2 separate regions of the Homo sapiens genome follow, and region 1 is linked to region 2. A link means that fine-mapping ties the variant in region 2 to the expression of a gene that starts in the linked region. Tissue or cell type: whole blood. Region 2 holds a variant in brackets; the other region holds the start of a gene. All regions are shown on one strand. Distances are from middle to middle.

Region 1 (8,000 bases), 38 kb after region 2:
TCAGCCAGTCCTGGCAGCCCCCGGACCCACCACCTGAGCACTCCTCCCCACCCCTACTGCCACCAGCCCTTCCCGGCTGCCACGCCCTGGCCCCCAGCTCTTATATCCCTGTGGCCATTCGTGCCCTCGAACCCCCATCTCCATACCACGGTCAACTAAAAATGCAGAGCATACCAGGCCACTCCCCAACCTAGAAGCTTCTTTCTCAGCAGCCCTTTGGACGTGGATTCTCCCCAGGCCCCCCGTCATTGCACTGGGCTCCCAGCCCCCTCCCTGAGTTCACCTCCATGGTCCTGCCCCACTCTCTTCTCTTGGTTCTTTGAGGCATCAGGTGTTTGCCACCACTGGACTTCTGTCATCGCTGCCTCCAACTCTTCCCCCATCTTTCCGGAGCTCCCCCACCCCCATCCCCTTCGAATCTCAGCTTGGCTGTTTCCTCCTTGGAGAGATCACTCCCAGGACCCCCTCTGCAGGGGTGCCACATCACCTGTTCTGAATTCTTAAGAGCACCCCTGCTCTCAGAACTCCTTATTTATTTGACTTGTTTGTATCCCTGAACTAGAATGTAAGCTCCATGAGGGCAAGGCCTTCCTCTGTCTCGTTTCCCTGCTGTATCCCCAGTGCCTGGAATAGTGCTTGGTGTGTAGCAGGCACTCAATAAACTGTGGAAAGGATGAAGATGCCCCCAGTTGGGGTTGGGGAGGGCGACCAGCTGGCCTGTGCCGTAGCCGGTCACAGCACATCATGCTCTGTTGCAGGTCACTGCAAGGGGATGCTGCACCCCCTCAAGGTGAGGCCTCTCCCTCTGGGGCCCCTCCTTTCTGCCTGGTTGGGGGCAGGAGGCTCAGTGGGGTGGGGATAGGGCCCAGACACAGCCTTACACAAACACAGCCTTTGAGCTTCACGCACCAACGGAGCCCTGGGCACACATGCCTGGCCGGCACAGTCCTGTCCACTGAGGCACCAACCCAAGCCCAGGCCTCCGACTGCAGAGTAACAGGCAGGTATTCCGTGCAGGTGAAGAGCTGATTGAGGCTGCCAAGAGGAACGACTTCTGTAAGGTACTAGCTCCAGGCTCCAGTTCCTTCCCCCAGCAGCTCCCTCGGGCCCTGGGGAGCGAGGCCTCTGGGTTGGGCCAAGAGCTGACCTGCTCAGGTGCTGTCATCTGTCATCGTCTGGCCCTCTGTGGGATCTCCAGTGATCGTCCCATTCCACTTCACTGTATCTCTGTCTAGGCCACAATAGATGGCTCCTAGTAGGGGCTTCCTAGCTCAGTCCACCTGTCCCTGGTGCTTAGAAAGGAGCAGGTCAGAGGAAGCACTGCTCCAGGGCTTGGTCACCAGTGCTGCCAGAGAGCCCACAGGCTGTGGGGTGAGAGGCCCCTCCTCCGGTGTGCTCCAGAGAGACCCACAGAGGCAACTCAGGAGTAAGATGTGTGAGCGCACTCGTTTCAGGCCTGTGCTGGTGTACCCGGCTGTGGGCCAGCGTGTGAGCTCAGGGAAGGAGGGGTGGCCCCAGGAGGTCCAGCCCTGCCATGCCTCCTGCCCTCAGCTCCAGGAGCTGCACCGAGCTGGGGGCGACCTCATGCACCGAGACGAGCAGAGTCGCACGCTCCTGCACCACGCAGTCAGCACTGGCAGCAAGGATGTGGTCCGCTACCTGCTGGACCACGGTGAGCCGGGCAGTGGAGCCCAGGGCCTGGGGCCAAGGTGGGAGGAGGAGGGGCTGCCAGGCCTCTCTGACCACCACCTCCCCTTCTCCAGCCCCCCCAGAGATCCTTGATGCGGTGGAGGAAAAGTAAGTATCTGGGCAGTGCAGAACCGTGGTCACCCCGGAAACCACCCTTTTCCCCACCCCTCCCATTTTGTCAGGTCAGAGCCCATAAACTTCCTGGTCACATCTGTCATCCCCTGGGCCACCCCTATTGCCCCAGAGCCCTGAACTTCCTGCCCTTTCTGATGGCCCTTGGGAGACAGATGGGTGGATCAGGGGACGGGATGGGGTACACAGCCAGCCCCTGCTCCCCCAGCGGGGAGACCTGTTTGCACCAAGCAGCGGCCCTGGGCCAGCGCACCATCTGCCACTACATCGTGGAGGCCGGGGCCTCGCTCATGAAGACAGACCAGCAGGTGAGCAGACGGCAGGCAGGGAGCCCACGAGGGCACCAACCAAACCTTTCCCAAGGTCCTAGGCGGGAGCTGGGGCTGGGGGCTGTCCCTGGGAAGACACAGTCCAGACCCTGGGAAACCTGAGCCAGCAGGGGAGGAGCTGGTGGGCAGAGAGGCCTCCCTCCCTGACCAGGCCACAGGGAGGTAGAGCCCCTGCCTCTCAGCCTGCTAGGGGTTAGGCCTGCCTCTGGCCCCTGCTGATCGCAGCTCCGCCCTCCTCCAGGGCGACACTCCCCGGCAGCGGGCTGAGAAGGCTCAGGACACCGAGCTGGCCGCCTACCTGGAGAACCGGCAGCACTACCAGATGATCCAGCGGGAGGACCAGGAGACGGCTGTGTAGCGGGCCGCCCACGGGCAGCAGGAGGGACAATGCGGCCAGGGGACGAGCGCCTTCCTTGCCCACCTCACTGCCACATTCCAGTGGGACGGCCACGGGGGGACCTAGGCCCCAGGGAAAGAGCCCCATGCCGCCCCCTAAGGAGCCGCCCAGACCTAGGGCTGGACTCAGGAGCTGGGGGGGCCTCACCTGTTCCCCTGAGGACCCCGCCGGACCCGGAGGCTCACAGGGAACAAGACACGGCTGGGTTGGATATGCCTTTGCCGGGGTTCTGGGGCAGGGCGCTCCCTGGCCGCAGCAGATGCCCTCCCAGGAGTGGAGGGGCTGGAGAGGGGGAGGCCTTCGGGAAGAGGCTTCCTGGGCCCCCTGGTCTTCGGCCGGGTCCCCAGCCCCCGCTCCTGCCCCACCCCACCTCCTCCGGGCTTCCTCCCGGAAACTCAGCGCCTGCTGCACTTGCCTGCCCTGCCTTGCTTGGCACCCGCTCCGGCGACCCTCCCCGCTCCCCTGTCATTTCATCGCGGACTGTGCGGCCTGGGGGTGGGGGGCGGGACTCTCACGGTGACATGTTTACAGCTGGGTGTGACTCAGTAAAGTGGATTTTTTTTTCTTTTCTGCTTTTCTTCTTTTGCGGGGGAGGTCTAACAAGCAGCGGGGGCTGCGGGGTTGTCCTCGGGGTGGGGGACTGGACGCTGTCGACAGCACCTTCCTGGGGCCCCGGCTCCCGTTTGGTGGTTGGTCCCAGGGCCTGCCCGGTTCCTGACCTCTGCCCGGCGGCCGCGCTCGTCGGGGCCGGGGGCGGGGCCGATCCCTCCGGCTTCCCGCTTCCCGCGGAGAACAACAATGAAAGTGAAAGAGGGGTGGGGCGGGGGCGAGCCCGGGTTCTGTGGCCCATTTGCCCTGTGGCCTTGAGCAAGCCCCTCCCCCAGGCCTCGGGGGCTCTCCCGGTTTGGGGGAACCGGGCGAGGCAATGCCACAGGCCCAGGGTTAGAGGGGGTGGGCACTTGCAGCTGCCGATGTGGCTGGATCTGGAACTTCTCAGACGGCTCCTGTCAGCGCCAAGTTTCACCAAATCCAGGCCTGCGGGCTCCTCCCCCAGGACCCCCACTCGCAGTCCCTCAAGCCTGTGCTCCCGGAAAGGCACTGGGCGACCGCACCCGTGGCTTTCTCTGGGCGACCGGGTCCCAGACTCCCCCCAGCACAGCAGAGCGCTTCCCTGCCCACCCGCGGAAACCGCCCCAGGTGGGCCGCGCCCCCTCCCCAGCAGCCAGCAGGGCGCCAGGGCTGAGCCGGCCGTGGAGGGGAGCGGGTCCCGCGGGTTATACAGGCGCCGGGGCTCCGCGGCAGGCAAGAGAAGCTGAGGCCTGAGAACGGCCCGGGCCTTGGCGTACGGCAGGGGACGACCTGGGATGGGGGCAGCGGGCGGCGGCGCAGGGAGTGGGCCGGGGGCCGGTGTGCGCGGGCGGGACGGGGCCCGGGGTCGGGAGACCACCGCTCGGAAGATGGGGCCGGGAGAGGCCGCCGTCGCAGCGCAGAGGGCACCGGCGGGGAGACGCGAGGACGCGGGGCCGGGAACACGGACGCCGGAGTAGAAGCGCGGGGGGCGCGGGCTGGAGCGGGGGCGGGGACGCCGGGGTCGGGGGCGGTGCGGGTTTGAGGGGAGGGGGCGGGGCGGGTCCTTCCCTGGGGGGGTGGGGAGAGGGGGCGGGGGCCCATGTGACCGGCTCAGACCGGTTCTGGAGACAAAAGGGGCCGCGGCGGCCGGAGCGGGACGGGCCCGGCGCGGGAGGGAGCGAAGCAGCGCGGGCAGCGAGCGAGTGAGCGCGCGGCGGCCCCTGGTCCGCCCGGCCGCGGCCGATCTAGGGGCTGGGGGCTGGAGGCGGGGGTGGGGGTCTGAGCTGCGTCCTGGGCTCGAGGCGTCCCCCGGGGAGTCGCCTCTTAGCGGTGCGTCCGGGCTAGCGGCGAGGGGCCGCCCCAAGTCTTCCCACCGCCGCCACCTTAGCAGCCCGACTTGGGGCCTGGAAAGTGGAGCACGCGGAGGTGGGAGGGCCCTGCACGCGGCCCCCGGTGGGGAAGGGGACGGGCCAGGGATTCAGACTCGGGCTCTCCCCTCAGGATGCAGCACCGAGGCTTCCTCCTCCTCACCCTCCTCGCCCTGCTGGCGCTCACCTCCGCGGTCGCCAAAAAGAAAGGTGATGGGGGATGATCGAAGGAGGGCTGGGGACGGGCAGGCGAGGCCCCTCCACTTCTGGGCTGGGCCGCCTGGGTTCCTAGCCTGGAACCCCAGGAAGGCGGCTCCCGAGGGAGTCTCCCCGTGCCCCAGTCCTGAACTCTGTTCCTCGCGCGTTGTAGATAAGGTGAAGAAGGGCGGCCCGGGGAGCGAGTGCGCTGAGTGGGCCTGGGGGCCCTGCACCCCCAGCAGCAAGGATTGCGGCGTGGGTTTCCGCGAGGGCACCTGCGGGGCCCAGACCCAGCGCATCCGGTGCAGGGTGCCCTGCAACTGGAAGAAGGAGTTTGGAGGTGAGGCGGGGCGCAGTCAGAGGGCAGGAGACGGGGGGCACAGCCTCGCCGAAGCCTGGGCGGACCCTTGGCGGAGGGCGGGGCCGCGGGCCGCGCAGCGCTGACCTGGGCCGCTCTCTCGCCAGCCGACTGCAAGTACAAGTTTGAGAACTGGGGTGCGTGTGATGGGGGCACAGGCACCAAAGTCCGCCAAGGCACCCTGAAGAAGGCGCGCTACAATGCTCAGTGCCAGGAGACCATCCGCGTCACCAAGCCCTGCACCCCCAAGACCAAAGCAAAGGCCAAAGGTCAGCGAAAGGAGAAGGGGGTGGGGCTGTCGCGGGGGGCTGCCCCCCCCCCCCCCCGCCTGTGAGGGGACAATTCCAAGTTAAACCTTAAGTTTTGAGTCCTGGCCAGTGGCTTCCTGACATCGCCTCACTTGGCTTCCCTGCCTGGAAAAGTCTGAAGATGGGCACTACAAGAGAGGCCGCAGGTGATGCTGGGGACATAAATCCTCCCTGGCCCAAATAGGGACCAACTCAAACTACTCCATTGGAGCATCTGGCTTAGGACCCAGGGAGAGTGTCCTGGAACGGCTTGCCTTTGTCAGCTCTCCAGCCACGGGCAGCATTTGGTCAGCTCTGCCCTTTCTAGTGTTGGGAGGAGGTCAAGGCCCACCCTGGGCCTCTCAGCTCACTCGTGACTCAGCCCAGCGAGGCCAGCAGGGCAGGGGTGAATCTGCCCGCTTCTCAGGTGAGGAGGCTGAGGATGCCCAGGGCTGCTGTGACCAGGACTAGGACTGGAAACTTGAAGGTTTTCTGATCCCAAGTGGAAATAGGAAGCTGGGGATGTCCCATGTCCACATCACAATGGCTGCCCCATCCCCTGCTTCCGAGTCAGCTGATTGGAAACCACTAGGGGGCAGAATCTTCTCCTTCCCTGATGCCCGGGTGTTTGTGGAGCCGGCGGTCTGCAATGGGTCAGCCTAACTGCTGATATGGTATTAATATTTCTTTCTTGTTTTACAGCCAAGAAAGGGAAGGGAAAGGACTAGACGCCAAGCCTGGATGCCAAGGAGCCCCTGGTGTCACATGGGGCCTGGCCCACGCCCTCCCTCTCCCAGGCCCGAGATGTGACCCACCAGTGCCTTCTGTCTGCTCGTTAGCTTTAATCAATCATGCCCTGCCTTGTCCCTCTCACTCCCCAGCCCCACCCCTAAGTGCCCAAAGTGGGGAGGGACAAGGGATTCTGGGAAGCTTGAGCCTCCCCCAAAGCAATGTGAGTCCCAGAGCCCGCTTTTGTTCTTCCCCACAATTCCATTACTAAGAAACACATCAAATAAACTGACTTTTTCCCCCCAATAAAAGCTCTTCTTTTTTAATATATAAAAGCCCCTTCCCAAGGAGTTTGCTGTGGAAATGTGTTTGGGAGTGGGAAGGTGGGGAGAAAGACCAGGCTGTAGGGACTGGTGGGTTTCAGGGGGCTTGGTGGTGGGTGCTCTCCAGAGCTCATGGAAAAAGCAGAACAATTACAAACATTTCTTCCAGGGCCCCTGAAAGGGTGCTCCCCATCAAGTCACCTAAGCCTTTCGGTCCTCATCTCCCTCAGGGACCAGGGCTGGGGAAGGGAACCTGGCTGACTCACTGGAACCACCACACCCATCTCAGCCTCACCCAGTCAAAGGTCTTTTGATACAACCCACAGCCAATCAGGAAGGTTCTACCCATGGGGGAGAGCAGATGCGAGGGCTGCGTGCCTACCTCACTGCCCACCTCCCCCCTTCCCACTGTCATGGAAACCCGAGTGAGCCACCAGGTTGACCCCTTTCCTCTTGCCTGTGTGACCCAGGCCTCCACCCTGCAGAAGCCAGGGGGTGAGAGGTTTGAAGAGGGCAGATGGGAATGCCATCCACCACAGCCTCACCCTGACTCGATGTGTGACCTGGGACAGCCTTCTAAGGCCGGGGCTGCAGGGGGCTGTCTTCTGAATACGTGGACCACTCACGGCTCAGCCTGGGATCGCAGAAGGCCAGACCTCAGTTCCTGAGACAGAACCTCTGACCTCCCAGCTGCCCCATCTTAATGTGACAAGGGCAGTGCTGCTGGGGCGGGGGGGACCTGGCCTCCATCATACCCACCCAGAACCTGGCTAAGTAGCTGCAGCCAGAGGAGATTTCTGCCCCTGGAGTGGGATTTGGGGAGAGGGGGCTGAGCCTACATGCGGGGTGCAAGGGGGCAGAAAGCACCGATTACAGCAGAATGGGGGACCCCACCCTTCTACTCCCTTCCCAAGCCTCCTTTTCCAAGCACTGGCCCCTTTGTTCTTCCTGAGGGGGCCCTGGGCTTCGGCCCCCATCCAGATGTCCATTCTTCCAGCACTGCTGATGGTTGGTCACAGTGGGGCAGGTGCCCACCCAGGCCAGTGCCCCGCAGCTCGCTGAAGCAGGGCCACAGAGGTGGGCCAGGCAGCCCCAGTTCAGACACTCCCTGGGGTGAGCCTCCTCAGCCTGAGCAGAGATCTGGTCTCTGAATGCAGCCACAGAGCCTCTTCTGAACTTCCTCCTCAGCAAACGTGAACGCAGAATGGTGCCTGCAACTCTTCCCCACAGCAAGTGAGCCGTGTGGTCCCCCCAGCACACGCACGCAACACCAGCACCTCCTAGGGCACTCCTGCCTGCCTACCTGGCAGTGCCGATGTTCCGATACTGGCACAGCAGCAGGTGCCGGAAGGTCTTTTTAAAGGTGGCGTTGCACAGAGCATAGCAGGCAGGGTTGATGGTGCTGTTGACGTAGCAGAGCCAGTAGCCAATGGACCACACCGTGTCAGGGATGCAGCTCTGGCAGAAGGTGTTCACCAGGACCATGACGTTGTAGGGCGTCCAGGTGAGGATGAAGGCTAGCAGAATGGCAAAGATCGTTCGTGTCACTTTGCGCTCCCGGGCCGCCATCTGCCGCTTCTTGCGCACCTGGTTGCGAGCGATGCTGGCGAACTTGCGGGCC
Region 2 (8,000 bases):
TGCTGCGGGTCCACGACTCCTCAAGGGAGGGGCACCTGATCCAACTCTCCCTGCGGCTATTTACCAGAAGCTAAAAATAACCCAAGAGTGACAGGGAGATGGGGCCGATTTGTAATTTAAATAGCAACAGGATAAAGCAAGGAGCTGCCAGAGATCACATTCTGTCCTGAATTAACAATGCAAAACCAGGGGCAGAGAGCTGAGCTGAGCAGGGGGAGGGGACCACGGCCAGAGGAAGCCTGGGGTCCATCAATTTTCTTTCCTTTGAAAAGGGCGGGGCCCAGGCCCAGCCCGGAACTCCTTCCCTCCCCTCAGGGACCTGCAGTTCTTGCTGATCAGTGAGTCAAAGGCCAGAGAGGGCAGTGCCACACTGTCCCAGAGGCCAACGTGCAGGGATCGGGATCCCAGGAGAGGGTCTTATCTGACCTCATTTTGGCACAAGGAGCTTGGGACGTGCCCCCAGCAGCCCATGTCCCCCAGTCCCCGCACCAAGGGGCACAGCCACTTGGGCATTTTGGAGGGAACCTGGGAAGGCCAGTTTGATCAATGGCATTTGAAGAACTTATTTGGTGGCCTGCTGAGATGGTGGCCTGTGGGCCAAGCATGGGGAAGCCTGGAGTGGAGTCTCATTTTTGCCTCAGTTGGTGCCTTTCAGAGTTTTCAGAAAGGCCCCTCCAAGGTCCAGGGTGCCAGGGACAAGGGTTAGTACCAACTGGAGAAAACCTCTCTTCAATGACATACAAAGAGGGTGGGGAAGGAACTGGGACTGGACTCTAGGCTTCTGCAGGGCTCCAGTGTGACTGACAAGGGCTCTCGGCCTATAGATGCCTGGAAAAGGCTAATCAGAGATTGCAGAGTAGGCAGTGCTTTGGAGGCCACTGGGCCGCAGCTTACAAATGAGGAGCTAAGGTTGGCAGAAGTTAAGCAATGTGTTGAGATCACAGAGCCAGTAACTGGTGGAGCCAGGATCCAGACTGAGATCTGTTTCTCTCCAAAGCCCTTTTTACTCTGTCAGGCTTGCAAAGGCCTAGACTTTCATCCTTGAGGATCTTGCTTTTGGCTCTGTACAAAGTGTACATATCTCTGGGTGTGGTAATAGGATAGGTAGTAAGGGGGCTGAAAGGTAGCTATGCAATCAGGGCTTATGACCCTACAGATGTGAGTGGGAGGCTTGGAAGGCAGGAGACACACTGACCGTGTCGTGGGGGCTTGGTGTAGTCCAGGGTGGGGACAGATGGAAACTTTTGAGCAGATGCAGCTGACCCAGACTAAGGGGAGAGCTGTGCAGGCTCCTCTCTCACCTCCAATCCAGGAAATTGGGAGGTGCCAAAGGACAGCTTTCAAGAGACATGGTGGTTTGAAGGACCACCTTTGGCTGCTGGGCCGCCAGTGCTGTGCCTGCAGCTCTCTTGCCTCAGCAGGAGAGGGTCTCCAGCCCCTCCTCCAGGTTTCCTCCTGCTCATGACTTTCGTGAAGCTACCCAAAAGGAACCTAGTCAAATGTCCATCTGTCACTAGCCAGCAGCACCTGCAACCCAGCTCAGACACATCTGTCTCCTCTGTGGGGGCAGAGGCCCAGCACTTCAGCAGGGGCCAGTGATCAGCAGGTGATCCCAGGCTCTGGGTTGCTCCCAAAGGCTTCAGCAGGTGCCCAGATCACAGGCATAGCTAATGGGGAGGCATGCACTTAAACTTCAAAATCCTTGTAGGACAGGCATGGTGGCTCACGCCTGTAATCCCAGAATGTTGGAAGGCCAGGGCGGGCCAATCACTTGAGGCCAGGAGTATGAGACCAGCCTGGGCAACATGGCGAAACCCTGTCTCTACTAAAAATACAAAAATTGCCAGGTGTGGTGGGACATACTTGTAATCCCAGCTACTTAGGAGGCTGAGGCAGGAGAATCGCTTGAACCTGAGAGGCGGAGGTTGCAGTGAGCTGAGATCATGCCACTGCACTCCAGCCAGGGCAACAGAGCAAGGCTCTGTCTCCAAACTCTCCATGTCTCACCATGGCCACTTAGGCAAACAAGAAGCCAGTCTCCCTCCCTCCCTCTGCCCAGCCTTCTGAACACCTGTATTCAACCCATGGCAACTTCCATAGGAAGTCACTGAGCACAAACTCATGTACCCAGCACTGAGCTAGGAGCAACATAAGGTTCAAGAATTTTGTAAGGAAGCAAGACTAAGTGCACAAAAAGTCAGATGATACAGGAATATCATTGGGAACAAAAGTGAGCATCATAGGTAAGGGATCAGCAGGTGGGGTGGAATGCCAGTTCAGGAGAAGTGTTTGACACTTGGTAGATATTTATGAAATATTTGTCGTACAAATGAATGAAGGAATGAATGACCAAAAACTTGGAAATCAGGAAAGAAGATTCAAATGGAACTGTCAGATCTAGAGCAGATCTTAGAAATCATCTGGTCCAACCCAGAGAGGGTAATGACTGGCCCACAGTCACACAGCAAGGGCTGGAGTGTGAACCAATGGACTCCATGTCTGCGGCTCTTTCTACCTTCCCACTTTTGCTGCTTGGGCTGGGTCTGAAGGATGGAGAATGTGATTGGCCAAATACTCAGGGAAGACAACCTAGGAGTGCAACATAGGCAAAGGGAATGGCAGGGGTTAGGGCCACATGTGAAGGGAATGCGAAAAGGGGGAGGAGGGGAGGTTCATTTAGCACCTACTATGAGGCAGGCACTAGCATGGCATGAGCTGAGAGAAAATCTCTGCAGGGAAAGCCTGGACAAAGAGGCGGAAAAGCAAGAACAGCCAGAGAACGTAAGGAGCCGCGAAGGTCAGGCCAAGGAGGCTGGCTGGGCGGGTTTTGACAGCAGAGGATGTCCAGGTCGTGGGTTGAGTGTTTGTTGCCCTGGTACATTTCTTTTCCCCAGCTCCCACTTGCTCATCCAGGCCACAGAAAGTAGAACACCAACCTCTGGGGCCTCAACAAAGCCCAGAATAATTTTCTTACCCAGATTCTTCTTCCTGTGTGTACCTGGGTGGATTCTGAGGGGTCCCCAGCTTCCCAGGGCTGGCACATGTTGTCCTAGGAACTGCCAAGGGCATCCTCCATAGTCCCATGCACCTGTCCCTTCCAGCCGTGTCCTCCCCACCCCACCTGGAAAGCAGAGATGACATTGACAGCGCCAAGGAGTGCAAGTTCAAGGTGGCCCTAGTCTCACAGTCAGGACTGCCCTGCTTCTTGAAGCCTCCAGCCTGCCTGCTTCCCCTCCAGGAGCCCCATTTCCTGCTCTCTGCAGCTCCAGGGCTGCCAGACGCCTCAGATGGAAAACAAGCCCAGCCCCATTTCCTCTGTTTAACTGCTCGAGCTACTTGCAAAATGCCTGCAAGAGGAAGGCAGGGCCCTGCACAGCCTCCTTCCAGAATAGACCTTGGTCTGGTGGACACAGTCTCCGATGAGGCCACAGCATATAGAACCCATCTTGAGGCATTCAGAGATAATGGGTTGGAGAGGAAACGTGGAAAAGTGGGGACTGAGCCTTGGGGGCATTACATGGCCATATCCCCTACCTTAGAGCAGCAATAGGATGTTTTATTTAAGAGCACAGATTCTGGGGCTAGATTCTCACTTCTACCACTTACCAGCTGGGTGACCTTAGACAGGTAAGCTTAGCAGCCCTGTGCCTTGATTTCCCCATCTGTAAAAGGAGGAAAATAAGGCCAGGTGCGGTGGCTCATGCCTGTAATCCCAGGACTTTGGGAGGCCAAGGCGGGCAGATCACTTGAGGTCAGGAATTCAAGACCAGCCTGGTCAACATGGTGAAACTCCGTCTCTACTAAAAATACAAAAATTAGCTGGGCATGGTAGCGCACGCCTGTGATCCAAGCTACTCTGGGGGTTGAGGCACAAGAATCGCTTGAACCTGGGAGGCAGAGGATGTAGTAAGCAGAGATCACGCCACTACACTCCAGCCTGGGTGACAGAGTGAGGCTCAGTCTCAAAAAAAAACAAAAAAAAAGCAAAAAAAGGAGGAAAATAACAAGATCTACCTCCTAGAGTCATTAAGAGGATTCAAAGAGCTACGTTACATATTCAGTAAGATTTTTGGCACAGAAATGTTCAGGAACTATTAGCCATTGTTTTATGATTACTGAGTATTAATTATTAATTGCATAGCATGCATTTATTAAACAAATATTTACTGAAAAATATTATGTTCCCATCATGAGGGACACAAAGGTGATTACAGCACCAGATGGAGGTTTTTAAGGGTCGGGATAGCATCTTGAAGGGTTCTGTAGCATAAATGTTTACTGAACTGAACTGATGCTGTTTCTGTCCTCAAGAAATTCACAGTAACAAACACATATACAACTAAAGAACTAGTTATAGAGCAGGGCGATTAAAGAATGCTTGAGGAAGGTACAGTTTCCTTCCTAGAACCAGTCCTAAGAATAAAGAGTGAATATATGCCCTAGTATTTATTTACCAAATCCTCACAATGGCCTTGAACTCCAGCACAGTTTGGCCTCTGGAGATCTTTCCAGCTCCTAACGCATTCCCCCTGGCTCCCTGTTCTCTGGCCATGCTGGCCTTTTTGCAATTCTCCAGACACAAATACATTCTTTGTTCCATGCCTTTGCTCTGACTCTACTTCCACCTAGAATGCTATTCTCCCAGGTAAGTCACATAGCTCACGCTCCCCATTCATTCAGGTCTGCTCTCAAATATCACCTCCCCAGAGAGGCCCTCCCTGATCCCCTCCCCCTGCCTAAGTCACTCTCATCACTCTTCTCCCTTCCTTTGGCTTCATTTTTCTTTATAGCACATCTTTTTTTTTTTTTAGACAGAGTCTCATTCTGTTGCCCAGGCTAGAGTGCAGTGGTGTGATTTCAGCTTACTGCAAACTCCGCCTCCCGAATTCAAACGATTCTCCTGCCT[C/G]AGCCTCCAGAGTAGCTGGGATTACGGATGTCCACCACCACACCCAGCTAGTTTTTGTACTTTTAGTAGACAGGGGGTTTCACCATGTTGGCCAGGCTAGTCTCAAACTCCTGACCTCAAGTAACCCACCAGCCTCAGCCTCCCAATCTTTATGGCACATCTTGTTTGCTGACATTATATTGTACATAGATTGTTTGTTTCCTGAATGTCTTCCCCACTAGAATCTAAGCTCTGTGAGGACAGAGCCCTGCTTCCTTGTTTTTAGAGCTATGTTCTCCGATACGGTGCCTGATGCACAGAAGGCATTCAATAAGTATTTATTGAATGAATTAATTTGTCAACCTTCCTATCTCTTCTTTATTCCTCAGATAACACCATGAGCTCAATTTTTTTTTTTTTTTTTTGGAGACAGTGTCTCACTCTTGTCACCCAGGCTGGAGTGCAGTGGCGCGAACTCGGCTCATCACAACCTCCACCTCCCAGGTTCAAGCGATTCTCCTGCCTCAGCCTCCCAAGTAGCTGTGATTACAGGCACCTGCCACCACGCCGGGCTAATTTTTGTATTTTTAGTAGAAATGGGGTTTCACCATGTTGGCCAGACTGGTCTCAAACTCCTGAGCTCAGGTGATCTGCCCACCTCGGCCTCCCAAAGTGTTGGGATTACAGGTGTGAGCCACCATGCCTGGCCTATTACTCCACTTTACAGATGAGAAAACTGAGGCTCAGAAAATCTCCCTGGCACATGTATTCATTAGTTTATTTGTTTATAGGCTACCTTGTCCCAAAAGTTATTTAGAGGACTCCGAGAGGTTTATGACCTGATCCAGGCCACACAGAGCTGGTAAGAGGCAGAACAGGACACATGCTCATGTCTCCAGGCTCCATCCTCATTGCTCATTTCTCTACACCACCTTCCTGTATGCCCAGCCCTGTGTAAGATGGTATGCTGCACACAGAAGTGCTAGGAAGAGAGCGCTCTTTGAGGGCTGGGCACACCCAGCCATTGTACCTGGTGGTTGTCATAAAGCGGGAGACCTCAGCAGGACCAAGAGTTGAAAATCAGACAGTTTAAATGGAGAGGAAAACCAGACAGGAGCCCAGGTGCAGATTCCAGCCCAAGCAAGCCCCATGGCTGCCTCCTGGCTGCTGGTCTGGGCTTGTCCCCACCTGCCCCTTGCTTTCTTGTGCAGCTCTTCACGGCAGCTGGCCCCAGCCAGCGGAAGGCGCCTATGAGCCCTGAGCCTGTGGTCCTCAGCTTGGGCGGCCAGCGGCCTCTAGCAGGCCCCCCCCTCGACCCCACCCCCGTCAGGAAGTGCCGAAAGAGGAAGAGAGTCGCCGGGCAGGATGAGCGCACCGGGGGCTGGCCACAGTGCCGGGGGAAGCTGCAATGAATCCTCAGCTCTGGGCCCAGTGGAGGCGCTGGGGACGGAAGAAGGGGAGCGGCCGGGGTCACTGAGGCAGATGTGGCGCTACCGCTCCTGGGACGTGCCACAGATCCCATCAGAGGCACCCCAGACACAGTAGGTACAAGGGGTGGCCTGGGAGTGGGCATGGGACCTCTGTCCCTCTATGAGCCTTTTATCTGAGATGGGGGTGACAGAAGTAGGGTCACCCATCTGTCATCCAGCACTCTGCAGAGGCACAGAGTAGGGCAAAGGAGTTATTGGCAGGGTGCAGGGAGCTCTGATGTTTGGACTGTGTGGAGGAACTGAGCTCGAGAGAGGCCAGGAGTTGAGCAAGCTAGCAGTGGGGGGATCTGGGAAGAGGAGCCCCCCCAGGAGTGTGGCACTGGATGCTGGAGATTTCTGACCCAGCTGCAAGGCCTTGTGGAGACTCCGTGGGGTCTTCAGTTGCCTCTGATCTCTTCTCTCAGAGCTTGGAGTAAGAGCCATTGGGAAACTTCCCCAAAAGGACCCATGCACCCCAGAGGCCAGTTGTCAGGCATACTTGGGGATTGATCTGCCCTCCTCCTGGCCACCCTGGCACCAGCTGCTGGCTGGAGGGCTGGAGCCCCACCTCCCTGATCAGACCTTCTCCCAACTTGCAGGAAACTGGGAGAGGGTTCTGGGCCTCGGGGTGCTGGTTCTTCCTCAAAATCACAGGCTTGTCCGCAGGTCACAGCCCTAAGCATTGGCTATTTGCGGCTGACTAAGGCTGGAAAACGGGCTGCCAGAACCCAAGAGGGGAGGATGAAAGCGAAGGTGACACAGGATGTGGCTTGGCAGAGAGGCGTGCACACAGAAGTAGTGGGCAGCTGGTGTGGGCAGCAGGGTGGTAGGGTTTGGGGAGGTGGAAGACCATGCTTCCCAGCTCCTGGCCTCCCTTCGTCAGCCCTGCGGGGGCCATCAGAAACAGCCCCGGTGTGTGTGATGGCTGTGCCCCTACAGGTGACTGCTTGGGTTCCAATTGCTCTCATTTCTGGAGGGGGACGGCCTCGGCTGCATTGTGGGGTGTCTTTGTGTGTGCATGTGAGGTATATTTCTGGATGGGAGTGTGTGCATATGCACACACATACATATGTGTGAGGGATGTGGCAACCGGTAACCATTGTCCTGGGAGTATTTGTATGTAGGAGAAAGGTGTGTGTTCTGTGTGGGCATGTGTGCTTGTGAATGGGAGTGTGGTACCTGTTGTCCTTCTGTGTATTTGTGAGTGTGTAAGGGCTGTGCAGGTGATTCCCGTAGCATATGAGATCTATAGGTTCTGTTGAATACTATGTCAGGAAAATGCGATGTGTTGGGCCTGGGTGAGAAGGTTGGAAACCATTGTGAATAGCTGTGGAAGGATGACTTTGTAGGAGAAACTTGTGAGTTCTTTGTTGGTGTGTGTGCGAGTCATTAAGTGACTTTGGTCACTGAGTGCGAGAGGCTGGGGTGGGAAGTGTTCGTTTAAGTAATGAGTGGGCATAATTGTGTAAGGGATGTGTTTGTTCTGCGTGCATGGGGAGCACTGTGTGACTTTTGTTCCCCTGGGTGCGATTTGGGGGAGCCAAGGAGGTATGGGTGGAGATTGTGAGTGGCTATGAGTAGGGTGTGCGAGAGCGGAGGGGAGGTGGTGACAGCAGCCCTCGCGAGTGTACACTTGTGAGCGTGCA

Evidence for each region. PIP is the estimated chance that this variant, and not a neighbour inherited with it, causes the effect.
Region 1: MDK starts here. The variant in region 2 is fine-mapped to the expression of MDK in whole blood (TOPMed, PIP above 0.99).

The regions. Positions count from the first base shown.
Region 1 is chr11:46,377,440-46,385,439 of GRCh38, forward strand. MDK (midkine) reads left to right here and starts at 4,230. Exons shown (of 5, transcript NM_002391.6): 1 at 4,230-4,319; 2 at 4,618-4,694; 3 at 4,855-5,022; 4 at 5,148-5,309; 5 at 6,030-6,362. The coding sequence starts at 4,619. The coding sequence ends at 6,055. DGKZ (diacylglycerol kinase zeta) reads left to right here. Exons shown (of 31, transcript NM_001199267.2): 26 at 759-790; 27 at 1,018-1,061; 28 at 1,552-1,672; 29 at 1,764-1,797; 30 at 2,030-2,129; 31 at 2,392-3,112. The coding sequence ends at 2,508. CHRM4 (cholinergic receptor muscarinic 4) reads right to left here. Exons shown (of 2, transcript NM_000741.5): 2 at 6,350-8,000. The coding sequence ends at 7,679. RefSeq lists an enhancer at 2,961-3,595 and silencers at 3,095-3,304, 3,735-3,934, 4,365-4,474, 4,895-4,944, 4,920-5,214.
Region 2 is chr11:46,339,160-46,347,159 of GRCh38, forward strand. It overlaps a transcript of DGKZ not described here. Among named protein-coding and RNA genes, the nearest start is that of DGKZ, 4.3 kb to the right of the region's middle. RefSeq lists enhancers at 1-709, 5,987-6,096, 6,040-6,334, 7,037-7,106, 7,177-7,226. The variant C/G (reference allele first, on the strand shown) is at 4,907.